Linked DNA regions of Homo sapiens. The protein of the gene in region 1 interacts with the protein of each later gene in a biochemical or structural test. Each region holds a gene or a part of one and is shown on either strand. Other genes may lie near its edges.

The links. Proteins that work in one complex are often made in the same cells at the same time.
Region 2: the proteins of CACNA1A (region 1) and SYT1 form a complex in vitro, tested with the Homo sapiens proteins (one study listed by BioGRID).

Annotation. Positions count from the first base shown.
Region 1 is NC_000019.10:13,495,936-13,503,865, reverse strand, and holds part of CACNA1A (voltage-dependent P/Q-type calcium channel subunit alpha-1A), read left to right. Parts: intron 1-7,930.
Region 2 is NC_000012.12:78,867,536-78,875,465, forward strand, and holds part of SYT1 (synaptotagmin-1), read left to right. Parts: intron 1-7,930. UniProt on the Homo sapiens protein: Calcium sensor that participates in triggering neurotransmitter release at the synapse. May have a regulatory role in the membrane interactions during trafficking of synaptic vesicles at the active zone of the synapse.

The DNA of each region.
Region 1 (7,930 bases):
TCATCTATTCTCTGGCCAGCTCGCCCGGGGCTTTCTTGCTCTTATGATGAGTTTGTGCATTATGCTCTCTGCAGACTGTTTTTGTTCTCTTTGACCCGAGGTAACAAACACATTATACAGCCCTACTCTGGAAGGGAAAACTCCCCACCTCACAATCTGTCATCGAGCTGGGTCATCCAGGACTGAGCTTTCTCTGTCCTGGATGGAGCGGAGGGCGGTGGCGGGGTGGGTGGGAGGGTTGGAGATGAGAGGGGATGGACAGAGACCTGGGGAGGGAGGTAGTGAATAAAAGAATTCAGGCCAGTGTAAAGAGAAAGACACGTGGAATGTCAGAGTCACGATACCAGGGCAGAACATTCTACTTTTTAATCTAAATATTTCTGCCATTAAAAAAAAATGTTTCAGCATATCCTGAGAGTGAAAAAAAAAGTGTGTAGGTACTTAAATAAAGTCTAATATATGTACAGGCAAGTACATATATTCAGATGCATAGATTTTTACAAAATGAACACACCCACGTATCCAGCACCCAGGTCCCGATCAGTGCCCTGGAAGTCCCCCTCCCCATACCGCCTCCTAGTTGCTCCCCCAACAAGGGTACCGCTCACCTGACTTCTAAGGTTCATTTTGCCTCTTTTAAACATGTAAATGGAGTCACACAGTACGTTCTTTTGCCACTGGCTTCTTTTGCTCACATCTGTGTATGTGACTCTACTACAATCTATCCATTCTACTGTTGATGGGCATTTGTGTCATTTCTGTTTGTGCCACTGGGAACATTCTTGTGTCTTCTATTATTTTTTTCCCACAGTTCTCTTAGATAGGAGTGGAATCGCCCCTGCTACTTTTTGATGCATGTGTTGTGGGATGTGTATTTGGAAATGGTGTTGACTAAGGGTTGCAGGTCGATATGGAAAGCAGGTTCCTCCCTGTCTTGTTTAAGAGAAGTGAGTGAATGATCCATGAACTTGTCGGTATGCTCACAGGGCCTAAGAGTGCTACTTCCAAATGTAAATTCTGGCATGGTACACTGGTGAAGGATGCAGTCTTGCTTTCTCCACACTCGGGGCAATTTGTCACTATGATTTCTTCCTCTTTCATCCCTCAGTGGGTCAAACTTGAAGCCATCAATGACAATTAAGAATCCTCATTTATTTCATTTTTTCCCCTCTTCCTAAGTGAGGAAACCCAAATGGAAGTCTTTGATGTTCAAATTTACATTGCCGTGTTTTTCTCATGCCAGGCAGCAAGCCGTCTTGACCACACACCTTGGTTTCATGTTTTCATTGACTGGAATTGTGATTCAAATAGGGCCATGAGGGTCTCTGATGATTGCCGAAGAGCTCAGATCTGTCAGCTCAAAAAGGAGCATCTGTCAGCCTTCCTAGAGTTCCCTCCCCACTTAATGCCACTCACTCCTTCTACCAAGTGCCAAGGTGAATGTCATCTTTCCAGCCCTCCCTGTGCCACCAGGTCTCCCACTGAACATGATGTAGAAACTCAGGCCATCGGAGGAACACTGGAAGCAGGTCAGTGTATTATCACGCACAGTTGCCTGAATTACACGTAGAATTCCAGCTTTTCATCCGGTTTGCAGAAATCTTAACAAGACACCTAAAGTCACATTGACATCAGGTGACATCACTTTGACATCTGTGGACATTGGCTGATTGGCACTCCTCTCATTTTTTTTTTTTTTTTTTTTTTTAAGAAAAGCTCTCTAAAGAGAAACTTTCTGCATGAGAAGCGCTGGGAGACATGGGAGCAGGTTATCAGACTCTTGGCCTGTCCTGAGAGATAGAATGTTCTAGAAGGTACTGCCGTAGAGGGCAGGATGGTGTCACTTACGTGATCCTTGTACTAGACCGGCTTGGCTGGTATTTCCAGAGGAGCAAAATTCTGCGAAGTAAAATTTAGCACGGCTTTTCCAATGGGAGTATTTTCAAAAAGGGTGCAATTTCTTATCCACAATTCCCCAATCCAAAAAGCTCCAAAAACCAAAAGACGAGCTCATATAGAGGTAAAACCTAACCTGAACTGACTTCAGTTTGAAGTCTTAATTTACAGTTTTCATTCATTCTACTTGGTGTGCATTTGAGTATGTTTTGCAGCAGAAATGTTAGATGTGCTTGATGATGAGGTGCTGCTTCAGCTCCTGACTGTTAGGTCTGCATTGTAGTCCTGTCAAACTTTCAGGTGTATGGAAGTTGTCTTGTTAACAGGATGGTTCTGGTCCAGCAGGATTTGGGTGGGGTCTGGGATTCTGCTTTTCTAGCTAGCTTCTAGGGATTCCCCATGTGGTAAGTTCATGGGCTAGGGTTGGAGTATCCAGGTTAGATCATAGAGACATCTTGTTATCATTTTTCTTTTCCTTAAAAATCAGGTTTATAGGGGCCGGGTCTGGTGGTTCACGCCTATAATCCCAGCACTTTGGGAGGCTGAGGCCGGTGGATCATGAGGTCAGGAGTTCGAGACCAGCCTGGCCAACATGGTGAAACCCCGTCTCTACTAAAAATACAAAAATTAGCCAGGCGTGGTATTGTGCGTCTATAATCCCAGCTACTCGGGAGGCTGGCAGGAGAATCATTTGAACCTGGGAGGCAGAGGTTGCAGTGAGCCGAGATTGCACCACTGTACTTTTTTTTGAGACTCTGTCTCAAAAAAAAAATAGATTTATTGATGTATAATTTATTTGTAGCAAAATTCACCCTTTTGACATACTGGTCTGCAAGCTTTGACAAATGGATGTAGTTGTGGCCACCACCCAAATCAAGATATGGGACAGTTTCATCAACCCTAAAATACCCCCACAGTGCCCCTCTTGAGTCAGCACCCCACTTCTCCAGCCCCTTCAACCACTGATCTGTTCTCCATCCCTACAGCTTTGCCTTTTGCCGAAGGTCATATAAATGTAATTTCACAGTATATAGCCTTTTGAATGTGGATTCTTTTACTCAGACTTTGAGATTCATTCATGCTGTTGCCTGTGACAGTAGCGCCTTCCTTTTTGGTGTTGAGCAGGATTCCATGATATGGATGGACCAGAGTTTGCTTCCCAGCCGAAGGACATTGGGATGCTTCCAGTTTCAATGATTATGAATAGAGCTGCTATAAACATTGGCTTATGGGTTTTAGTGGGAACATTTCATTTCATACATTTCATTTCTCTTGGGTAAATTAACCCAGGAGTGAGATTGCTGAGTTGTGTGGTAGGTGTATGTTTAATTTTATAAGAGGCTCTCAAACTGTTTTCCTAAGTGGTTGTACCATTTTACATTCCCATCTTTGCAATGCGTCTAAAAGCCCTGAGTTCTGAATTCCAAAGCACGTCTGGCCTCGATGGCTTAGGATTAAGGATGTGGATCTATGGAAAGGAGTGGAAGTAATAGTGTTAAATCCCGGTCAGAGAAATAAGAAAGATTAAGGATGTCATTCAAAGCTATGTGCCTGCACTAGAGAGAGAGAAAGAAGGGGTTCTCTTGGGTGGGGTTCCACCCCTCCCTGGTAGTTCTACCATTCCCCAGGAAAAAGTCAAGCTCTGAGGCTGTGAGACCCATGATCTTTACCCTGTTCTTCACCACTGCAACCCCAGTGTGTGGGACAAAGCAGGCGTCCTATAAACGTTTGCTGAGCAAATGAGAAAAGGTACCTGTCTTCACCCATTAACTAAATTGTATAACATCTATCTGATCTACCCTTGTGCCAACGTTTTAGGATTTTGATGGGTTTTAGTTGCAGGGGGTTGAGAGACTGTCCATGAGATTATCAGACCAATGAAAGTTTCTGAAATGTTAGTGCTTGAGTAGATTGGATGCAGCGGCCCCTTGAGAATGAAGTCTTTCTTCAGGGACTTGGAGTGGGAGGCATCTGTTGGGTGCGTAGGGCTTATGCTTCCCCCTCCCTGTTTCCCCCCCAGTAGCAAGCACACATATACACTTTCTCAGCAATAAAAAGCACCGCCGGGAAGGTGGACTCCATCCAGAAATGATCAGAGCCTAAGAGCCGTGCAGTAACGCATTTCCGAGAATGCCAGCTCAGCTCCTGAGAAAAGGGCCGGATGGGATGGTGCCTGCTCTGAAAGAGGGCAGAGAGGAGAGGGAAAACACTCCGGACTCTGGGTCAGACTGGCCCAGGTTCACATTATTCACCAGCCATGTTATCTTGGGCACCAGAGCCTATTTCTTGACATGCATGATGAGGATATTCCTTCTAGTAGCATCTCCCTTGGAGGGCTCTCAGGAGATTAAATGGGGTCGTGCGTGAAAAATGGCCAGCACAGTCTCCAGCACAGAGAAAAACCCCAAAACGCCAGAGCCGTAATACTATGGAGTCATTTAGGTTCCAGTGTTCTTTTTTTGGAAACCGGCCAGAAAAGAGGCTTTCTGGGTGGGAATGGGAGCGAAGTGCCCCCCCCCACCACCCCCTGCGACTGGTCAGTGTGGATTGATTAACCTGATCGTGGCGCTCTTTAAAGCCACCTTTGGACATTTTGCATTCTCCGTTCTCTCTGGAAGCTTTCAGGGGAAAAAAAATTCGTGGCCACTTGACCCATTTTTCTATTCCCTTGAGTCTAAGGTAAAAATTAATTCTCTTTCCTCCTTTGGTCCCTCCCTCTCTCTGTGGGTGACAAGGTGAGGGAGTTTTAAAGTATATAATTAGCTTCCCTCTTCCCCTTTTGCACTCCCTGTCTCTTCCTTTGGGGCCGGTCGAGAGTGCAGCCCAGGATGGCCACCCCAGGTGTCCACTGCAAACTCCACAGAAAAACTTTGCTCAACTTTTGGTTTAGAATTTAGGTACCCCCCTCCCCTTCCAAACTTTGGTCTTCTTTCTCCTCACTCCCTAAAAAAATAGGAAAAACAAGGAACATTCCTGGCGAGGGAACCATGAGTGGGCACAGCAACTTAGGTTTCAAAAACCACTGGGCCTCAGTTCTTATCTGAGTAGGGTGACCCTTCAGCCAGGGTTGCCTGGGACTATCCTGGGTTTAGCATCTCTGGAAACTCACAGTCCTGGGCAAACTGGGACGCTGGTCACCCTAATGGTGAGTTCTTAACACCTGAGAGAGAAGAATGGTGCAAGAGATGGTGCCGTTGACCAAGAAAGGGGGAGAGTCAGTTACTTATTCCCTCTGAAAAGCCAAGACTTTTTATTGGAATGAATGCAGCTTTTAGAAGCCGTCTTTAAGGCAGCTAATACAAGAGAGATTCCAGCTATGAAGGGAAATGCCTGAGTTAAGTCCGGATCAAGTTTTGACATCTCGCTTCGGTCAGACACGGCTTTATCTGCCGTTCAGACTGGGAGCAGCCGTGAGTCTTCCTTAAAGGTGCCTGTTGCTCAGGCGGCACCTGCAGTTAGAAATTAGCAGCCTCCCACCCCCAGCCCCCAAATAACAGGATTCAAGAGTCCCCTCTCTGAAGCCATGAGGGAAACCCAACTTAGTCACCCACTTGCCAGTAAATAATATTCATGCTGTTAAGTTCTGTTCTCATTTTAGGCCTATGTGTAAAAAATATATGTAATTTTAAACTGATTTTTAAAGTATTTTCATACGAACAGCATTTGCAGGAGGGCGAAGTCTGGATGTTACCTTTTTGTAAAAGTGGATGGATTTGTCTTCAATGAGACTCTGGGGCAGACTTAAAACTTGGCCCGCAGTGGTGTTACATGGATTCTGATCTTCCAGAGTCTGTCACGTTCTTTTATCTCCATGATCTTTATTATCTTCTTTATTGAGAATGATGGGCATGGTGTGTGTGGGTGGGAGGGCTATGCTGACCATCACTGCAGTGAAATGTGTTCGTGGCATGTTGTGGCGTCTGCATAGGAATGTGTCTGTTTGATTAACAGCACAAGCAGTGGAGGCTGTAAGGAGGAAAAGAGGAGGGAAGGTGATATTGGATGGAGGGGAGACATATAGAGCTTGGGAACAGTCCACCCTGGCTGCAAATCTCAGCTCCAGCTCACAGTTGTGGAGCCTCAGTCTTCTCCTCTGTAAAACGGGGACAGTAGTCCTATGTCCGAGGAATTGTAAGAAGGTTAAAAGATACTGTACCCAGAAAGCACATGGCATATATAATCATCCTGTGAAGTAGCCAACTCAATGAATTTTATTTTATTTATTTTGAGTCAGAGTCTCACTCTGTCACCCAGGCTGGAGTGCAGTGGCATGATCATGGCTCACTATAGCCTCGACCTCCTAGGCTCAAGCGATCCTCCTGCCTTAGCCTCCCGAGAAGCTGGGACTATAGGCATGCACCACCGTACCCAGCTTTAACAACATAAATTTATATATATATATATATATATATATATATATATATATATATATATATATATATATATATTTTTTTTTTTTTTTTTTTTTTTTTTTTTTTTTTGAGATGGAGTTTCATTCTTGTTGCCCAGGCTGGAGTGCAATGGCGCGATCTCGGCTCACTGCAACCTCCGCCTCCCGGGTTCAAGCAGGACGATGGGCATTTGGGATGTTTCTAGTTTGGGGTGGGGGATTGTTTGTTTGTTTGCTGTTATGAACAATGCTGCTGTAAGGAATCAATAATTTTGAATGAATGAATTCGAGGTGTTAATTTTAGTCTGTGTACTTGGAAATCTAGCTTCACCTAGAATCAGCTGAGATTCATCAGCATTTATGGCAGGAGCTAAGACATTTCACAGCTTACTCATCATTTTCTCTAAGAGGCTGGGTCAACCGGTTAGCTCTTGGTCCTGCTTGTATTCTGAGAGTCAGAACCTGTGGTTTAGACACTGGCAATTGATATGGTTGTAGAGAAGCAGCATGGTTGAGTTGAGAGCATGGATTCTGGAGCTAGGTGGCTGGGGTTCAAATCCCAGCTCTACTAGTCACTGGCTGCGTGATCTTGGGCAAGTCACTTAAGTGTTCTGTGCTTCAGTTTCCCAGTCTGTCCCAGTGGTGATTCTAATAGCTCCATGGGGATCCTAATAGCTCCTATCTGGGAGGATTAAATGAGTTAATACATCTGATGTTTAGAGTGGTGCCTGACACTTAGGAAGCACTATATGTGTTTATACATGGAAGAGTGGATAGATGGATGGACTTATGTGGGTGGCCATATTTGGGCTTCTCTGATCCACTGCTGAGAATAGTGTGTGGCACACAGTAGGTGCTGCATAAGTGTTAATATTCTGCTCTTTCTTGCCAAGTCTCTCAACTCCCTTGATCTCTGTTATTTTTGGCGTCTGTGTTGTTAACCCATTCTTCTGAATGATCAGCTGAATCACTGTTGCTCCAATATATAAGCCAAGGAGAACACAATCACAAGGTCTCATTGATTGTCCATACTAGAATTCCATGATTCCTAGGCCCAAGTAGGATTTTCCCCACGTCTCAGCAATCCTTCTTCCATGTTTCTAATCTTTTTCTCTCATTTGTTATGCCCCATTGCCAGACTCTCCAATCTCCCCACAGCTTCCCCTTCCTCTAACTATACTGTCTCTAGTCTTACCTTCTCCCTAAGGGCACCGTCTTTGAAGACATCAAATACTTCAGAGCACCAAATATAGGTTAGCTTCTCTGAGGGCCTTACAAGGACATGGAGTGTTTGGGTCTTACACAAATTGGAATGGTCAGAAATGTTTAGAGACTTGAGTTGTCTTTGAAAGAGTTGTCAGAATGCAAATTTTTGACTTGTGGCCTGTTTCTGATCACAACGCAGTCTTTTAAGTTATGGATCATAGCTGGATGTTTGTGGTTTAGAGGGGATGGAGGCATCCTCTGCAGTTAGTGTTGGATGTCTGGGTGGATGGATGGATGGATGGATGGATGGATGGATGGATGGATGGATGGTTGAACAGATGCATGGATGAGTGGATGGATGGATGGATGGGATGAAGGAAGGAAGGAAGGATGGGTGATTGGAGGGTAGGTGGGTGGATAAGTAGATTGGTAGATGAC
Region 2 (7,930 bases), on another chromosome or scaffold:
ATCTTTGTTTTTTCTCCCTTTGACAGGATATTTTAGTAAATCTCATTAATGTTTCAGAGTAAATATGATAATTATGCCTCGAGGTATTTTTGTCAGAATTGAAGACTGCTAATATATAGGGAAAATCCTAAAATACTAATTTCACAAAAATACCACATGATTGAGAGTTGTTGCTGAGTAGTTTTGAACTTCATTTCATAATGGAGAATATTAGTTATTTCATCTGGTCAAATTATCAGATAGTTCTAATCAACAAATATGAAAATGAATAACATTGTATTTATACGATTTGCATATTAGACTGAAATTGAAACTAAAAAATAGTATTAATTATATGCTTGTATTAATTATATGCAAGATGAGCTGGAAGATTAATAAAATAAAATGTAGAATATGTTAGAAATCTGAAAGTTAATTTGAACTTCCTGTTAGCCTAATAACACCATTAACATAATATCAGTTCATCACTTTTGATGTCAGTATATTAAGTTGATTTTGAGAAAATTCCCAAAACAGTTAGAGCCATCTAATCTTAAAGAACACACACTTAATGCAGACAATTATACGAGCCTGAAATATAGTTCTTATGATTTCCAGTTTGTGCAACAACCAAGAAGAGCTATCACTAATTCCAAATTGAAACATAATATTTATTTTCCTAATGGTAATAATTAAGTAATTTGGGGGGAACAAGAAATAAAAACAGTTTGATTATATAATGGAACAAATCTTTGTCTAATATTACCAAAAACCCATACCAAAGTTAGACTTTCTGCCATTGTGTAATGTAGGTATGCGTCTTGCATGCATTCTGCAGAAAATATAATATTTTTAAAAAGTAAATATCTGATGTAGTTGTGATATTTTAAAATTCTTAAATAATTTATTTATCATAAATATATCTGTACCAAAAGTTCAATACATGACGTGGCTGATTTTAGCTGAAATTTTTTCACTGAAATTGACCAAAGCCATTTAAAAAGAGACAAAGTATATGGCAATATACATAATAATTTCAGCTAGAATTTAAGGATATGTGTGTGTATATACATATGCATATATTTGTGTGTATATATATTCCGAAATTATCTAAATTTTTCAAAAAGGTTTAGAAACTCATGGACAGTAGACTATAATTTGCTGAAACTAGGGGCTATTCATGTACAAAGTACCATTTAAAGAAAGATGACGGTGTCTTAGGAATGCTTTTAAGGGTTCTTTGGTTGAAAGTCTGGGAATACTCAGAGATAATATTAATGAGAGCCTAGAGTTTTTTTCTTTTAAAATGGGGTTCCATGGCTTTGGGCAGAAATGATTTTTATATGTATCATGATTGAAAAAACTCTCAGTACAAGATGATGCACTTCTTTATACAGGTAACAAATAAGTTGAAATCATATTTTTACATGATTTAGATATGATGGCTGATAAAACTTCTGTCTTTCTAAGGCTTTTGGCAGATGTTTCTTTCAATATTTGCATTAAGGTAAACATTCTTAATTTTTTATGTAATTGAATGGCATGATTATCATTGCATTGGGTGGGAGAATGTGGGTTGATATGTTTTCATTAAATTCCTCAAGAAATGATCAACATTTTTTCAGTCTTTTTGCAAACTTGACTTAAACTTCTCCACTAAGTGTTTCCATTTCCTTAAGGAGAAATTTAACATTTCCAAAAAAAAAGATAACCAGCATTTTTCTTTCAGCTGGTCATTTTAAGAGTGTTCTTGAGGAGCTAGTTTTATATGGACTGTAAGATAAACTGTGGTAGCCGGGTATGTGAACATCACTCCATTCATATGTACTAGCAATACAAAATAAACTTATTTAAAATTATAGTGCAAATGTATGCTACCTATTAGAAGAGAGCATGCCATCATTTACTGTCTACATCAATAAAATTAACTTTTGTTTTATTAAAAAAGGAAAACTTTTCTTTAAAGTGGACAATAAATATATTGCTATGTTGTAGAAATGGTAAACACTAGAGATGCTATTTCTGCAATTTAAAATATAATATTAGAGATTCTATTGCAAAGAATCCTAGTTTTAAAATGGCATCTACATTACATTATTTTAAAAAAGCAATATTTAAGAGAGTTTCAAAAGAAATTAAAACCTACATTAAAGTAAAATAACACCTTTATGGTAGTGTTAGAAATGAATTTTCTAGCATGTCTTTGACACATGCAAAACAAATATTTTAAAGAATTATTTCTGTAATTGCTCTAATTTTTATATTTATTTAAGCCTTAAGTTCTGATTGCTGATTTCCATACTTTACTAATAATGCAAATGAGAGGTCAAAGTTTATCTTTTTTGGTTACTGCTATTGCGGAAATACAAAGAAAGCATACTGGTCACTCCTATAAATGTCTCACACATAGTATGTTTTATGTTTAACATTATTACTTATGCACATAAAAAGGCATTTTGTTAAAGAGGAGCTCTAGAAAATCATAAAGCAGATGAAGATATAAAACACGCCTTCTATTTCTAGCTGTTTGTACAAAATGAGAGCTGGGGAATTTCCATGTAGAACGGGAATGGCCTATAAACTAGTGTAAGAATTCGGTGAAACTACTTGGTTAAGATATAATTTAAGATATTATTTCCAAGAGTTCATACAGCCCTGTTGGACAACATTTCATCACAGATACTAGCTTGCAACCATGCTACGGCAATCATAAATACTGTTAAAAAGACATTTAGCTAAGTGCCTCAGTTAGAAATTAATTTCTGATTGAAATATCCACTTAATTAAATTCAGGTATGGTACTGAAACTTGGTCATATCTTACCTCAAAGAACCTATTTCTGTACTTGTGAAATATAGCTTTATTAATAATTTTAAAGTGCTTAGAGTTCCGATATTTTTTTATCAAAGGGTATTATATAAGTAAAAGTAATTGTGTCTTATTTCCTGTGATAGATAAATGTTTTCTTTCTCTTTTGAAATCAAAGATAAAATGCACATATGCACTCAAATGCAAACATATTTGAAGAGTTTGAAATGTAAACATTCTTATTTTGCAATTGCTTACATGAGAAGTATATAGTCTCCTGTCCTCTTCCATCATGCTCCCTGACAGCAGCCATCATTTCAGTCCCTTGAGAATAGAAAGGAAAGCAGACAAACCACCTGAAAACTCTGGTGAAAGTTCTCATGATGTGGCCTCCAGGGAACAGCCTCTTGTTTTACTTGAGGCTCATTTCCGCTGGGCCATCCTCCTTGCATGTCACTCCATGCCTACTGTGGGTAGGAAACAGGTACTTGGATTGACTGATTGCTGCTTTGAGATTCCTTGACATATTTTTTCATCAACATGAAGGCAAAAGGACATGAATACTCAGTCAAAACATGCAGAGCTGTACTTACGTGAACACTTTTAAAATGCGATACTGAATCTTATATAATTTTAGGATAATTTATGAAAAAGCTTTTCTTTCTTGGAATTTCTTTTGTTTACTCACAAGTGATCCAAGCAAAAGATGAAGCTGTTAAACCATGAGTCAGTATAGTATTTTTTTAACTTAACACCTGAGAATAAAGCTGAAAGGATTGTTTAAAAAGTGTTTCAAATCATACTTTCAAAATCCATCTGTGTCTGGAGACCCTTAAATAAGCACATGCTTCATGGTCATTATCCCAGATAACTGACAATTTGTTTTTCTACAAAATCTCTGGATATTATGAAACATCACACACGAGCTTGCTTTTAGGATAGATTATTAATAATGTATTTTTCAGACACAATTGTATGTGAGAGTTTCTGCAAGTATAAACAATAAGATAACATTACAGCAGCAGGCAACACTCACTAAAATATCAATTTTGAATTGTCTGCTCTCTCTTTGAGAAGGAGAAAGAGCTAACTGAGTATCTTTTTCCCTCATGATGTACTTACTGGTCTCCAATATCCTATGCCATACAAACAGTGGACATGGTCCTTGCTTAGCTCCTATGAAATACGGAAACTGCCTACCTGCTTATTTTTGAGGGAAAAAAAACTTTTCTAGAAAGATTTTTAGACAAATGATTTATTGGCCTTTGAAGCAAGGACAAGTGCTATAACAACTCATTAAGGGACAGTTGAGCTCTAGCAATCAGGTTTTGAGTTATCAAGATTATTAGGAAGAAAAGTTGACACAGTTTCTCAGGAAAAAGACAAGGAAGCAAAGCATTGAAATCTGTTTCTGACTTGGAGTGTCTGCCAGATCCTAGTTTACAAGGCTGGCTTTCTGCCTAATCCCTAGCATTTTCATCAGATTTGAAGACTGAATAAAGTGAACTATTGGGCATTAGAGCATATTTCTAGAGCACCGAGACCTCTTCTATAAATAGCATAACATCACTCTTCTATTTTAACCAATGTTCAGAATCCGAGGCCACAAGTTTTTATATTTAAATATGTATAAACCAGATCATTCTATGCCTGAAAGTACTAGGGTTTTATCTGTCTGTGTACAGGAAATTCTTCTGTTAAAAGCTTAGTTAACAATATGACATTACAAATAATGTACCTATTTTTAGTGGTTTTATTAAATTATAATGTTAAATTTAAAAAGCCAAGCATTCACCTTGAGCTACATCTGAGCCTGATAATTCAAAAAGTGACATTTCAGTACAAAGCCAACATACCCTTAAATTGACAAAACTGCCCTGCTTTTAAATTGTTTTGTAAAAAAGTACTTGATATGCAAGTTTCCAACGACTTGTTTTTTTTCTGGAGAATCTTAGATACTTTCTGAACCACTCTTAGACAACACAGAATGAATATTAATGACAGGAGAGAGCTGACTCCTTCAGGCAAAAGTGGATGAGACAAGTTCTTTTATGCCTTTGAGAATCTGTTTCATCATTTATATATTGAACACATAGCAACAGTTTTATTTCTCTTGATTTCTGGACTTTTAGACCTGTATGCATCGAAGCATATTACACCTCACAGCCTGAATAGGAAAGATTTGTTCAGTTCTCTGGTTATAAGAATGATATAGGAATTCCTTTGTGTTCTCTTCCTTTCTGTACATTTTATTCCTTTCTCATGTCTTCTCTTCCTACTCTGCCCTTCTTCCTTCTTTTCTTCATTCTTTTGTCTTTCCTTTCTTTTTTTGTATCTTAATTAAATATTTTCCTATAGAATCACTAAATGAAGGTTTAGTACTTTTGACCCATAGTAATCTTCACCAGCTGAATTAATTTGTGTCAACAACTAAGAAATGTAATTCTTAGTTTGTATACATTTTAGGTTAGCTTCACAAAATATATGTATAGATAAATAAAGGAGCAGCCTTTTAATTTGTTTATGTAATTGGCACACTTAAATGGAATGTGTCATCATATGAATGTTTTTAAAATTTTGCATGTAAAGGGCTTGCGGATAATTTTTAAACCGTAACTTTTTGCAGAGAGACAGAATAATGTTTTAGAGTCCAAAAAACTGGCATGTACTATTTGGCATGTTTTTCTTTATTTTCTATTTTGCCATTGCAATGGTAACAAGTTACTGTGTTCATGACAGGCGTGCAGCACTGTATTTTTATTTGTTTATTTATTTTATTGCCTTGTTTGATGTTGATAATGAAGAGGTTCTCTCTCTTAAAGATGCAATGAAGGAGACTCAAGTGTTGTTACTTGCCTGCAATTACACATTTAGAAAGCCTCTTATATTTTTTGTCTGTTGGAACTTACTGCCTCAGCACTTAATAAAGCAGGAAAAAGCATGTTTTGTAATTCTCTTACTATGTAAGAACTAGTTTGCTTTTGCTTATCTAACATCATTATTGAGTATAAGATACATAGTCTTTATTTATCCCACTGAAAAAATAAGAAAGATTTGATATACCATTATTTCTTCTGTGACTCTAATTGCAAAATAAATTGAGTTTGTGTTTTAAAATTATTCAAGGGACATTTTTGTAATCTACAAGAAAAGTCACTAAGCTTGAGTCACTAGGCTAAGTTGGCCTTTAGTCATTGCTATATCACTGTGATGTTAGATAAGTCACCTTATTTGTTTTCTTATTTGTAAACTCCATAGTTCCAAGCCACCAAGTAGGGTGCAATGAGAAGTGATTGTAATCATAAGTGTTGTAGCTTTATCACTAACTCTCCAAACTTATCTCTTATTATTCTCCTCATTGATATTCATACACACCTTCTTGCTGTTCCTTCACATAACATTAGTGGAAGTTGTTGAATCTATTGATACTTTTTATCTTCTATTCCAAGGTAGAATGGTTAAACATTCTGCTCTAAGTGAACATATCCAAACCACAATTATTATTCAATTCAAATATGAAGTCTATCAGTTGGCAATTCTTTGTGTTAAGAAACACATTTGCGAGCAATAGCTAATAGCCATACCATTGCAATGTGGAATAATATAAGTGTGTTTGTAGCTAATCTGATTTAAGAAAACAGGAATTTTAGTTGGGAAGGGCCTATAGAAAGAATACAAAATTATATGAAACATAGGATAGGTATTAAGGGAGATATTTGAATGAATACAGGTATTCATATTGTTTCTTACAATATGTCAGGCACTTTTCTATGTACTTTCCATGCTTCATCCCATTTAATATTCTCAATAACTCCTTGGGATTTGTGCTAATTTGTTTATAATTTTTAAGTGAGAAAGTAGTGGAAAAAGAATAACTGAGCAACTTCCCAGGGTCACATTATGTAGTAAGATGTAGAATTAAACCCAAGCTACCTATTTACAGAGCCAATACTCAATCATAGGTAGTCACACAATCAATAAACTCATAAATGTCAGAAGAAGAGAATAGATGGTGGCAAAGAGGTAGAGGTACCCAAAAGAGATTAAATAGTGATAGGCAAATTGATCCACTTTATAGGTTAGGTCAATATGAGCATGATGGCAATAGGATAAAAGTATGAAACTTAGAGAGCTGGATTCAGATAGCCAACTCTGGAATGGTGAACTTCAATAAGATAGTTCCCCAGGAATGAAAATGCAATAATGTTTGCAAATTGTCTGGTGCCCTGTTACTATATGGTAGATTTGACCACCTTTGCTCCTCTTTCTCTTTTTTTATTTTCAGAAATTCTTTCACTTGTAAAAATGCCACCTGACTCAAAATGCTTAAGCAAGAAAAGGGATTTTGGTGCTCATGTGACCATAAAGTTCATGAATATTCTGGCTTCAGTCATAGGTGGAAATGGGAGCTCACACCATGTGGTCAGAACCAAGCCTATTCTCCTTCCTACCACTGTACCACTAGTACTCAATAATTTAACGACTGGTATGATTATACCAGTGTGAAAAGTCTACCTATAAGAGGATATTGGCTGAGTTGATTGTTATTTAATTCTAGTTATGTCCTTGCCTTACTCTGTTTGGCTTCCTCACTTTTTAATGCAGAAGGGTAGATAGTCTTTATTCATCTCATTGCAAAGATAAGAAGAAAGTCCTTTACAAGACTTGAAGAAATTAAGCTTAGTAGAACCAAGAACAGCAAATTGCAGAGCCACTTGCGTGTAAATGAGAATTTCAAACTTTTATTAGTTTTGTAAGGAAGGAGGGGTTATTTCAAGGAGTTTATAAAGTTTTAACCTACATATGCTACAGATTAAACGTTATCAATTTGTACAAATATATTATACATTTTTATCTTTGTTGTACTCTGAATTGAAGAGGAAATATTTGGGAATAATATATTTCTTCGGTAAGTATGATGATGTTCCTATTATATGCCAGGCACCATTTGGATGCTGGGGATACAGAAATAAAAATAGTAGACAGGTTTCCTGCATGTAGGAGCTTACATTCTAAGGAAGAAGAGAGACCATTAAAAACAACAACAAAACATTGCTATGGTACTTATATAATAAATACTATAAAATTGTAAAATAGGCTAATAAATAAAACAGAGCAATAGTGGGGAATGTGATCAACCAAA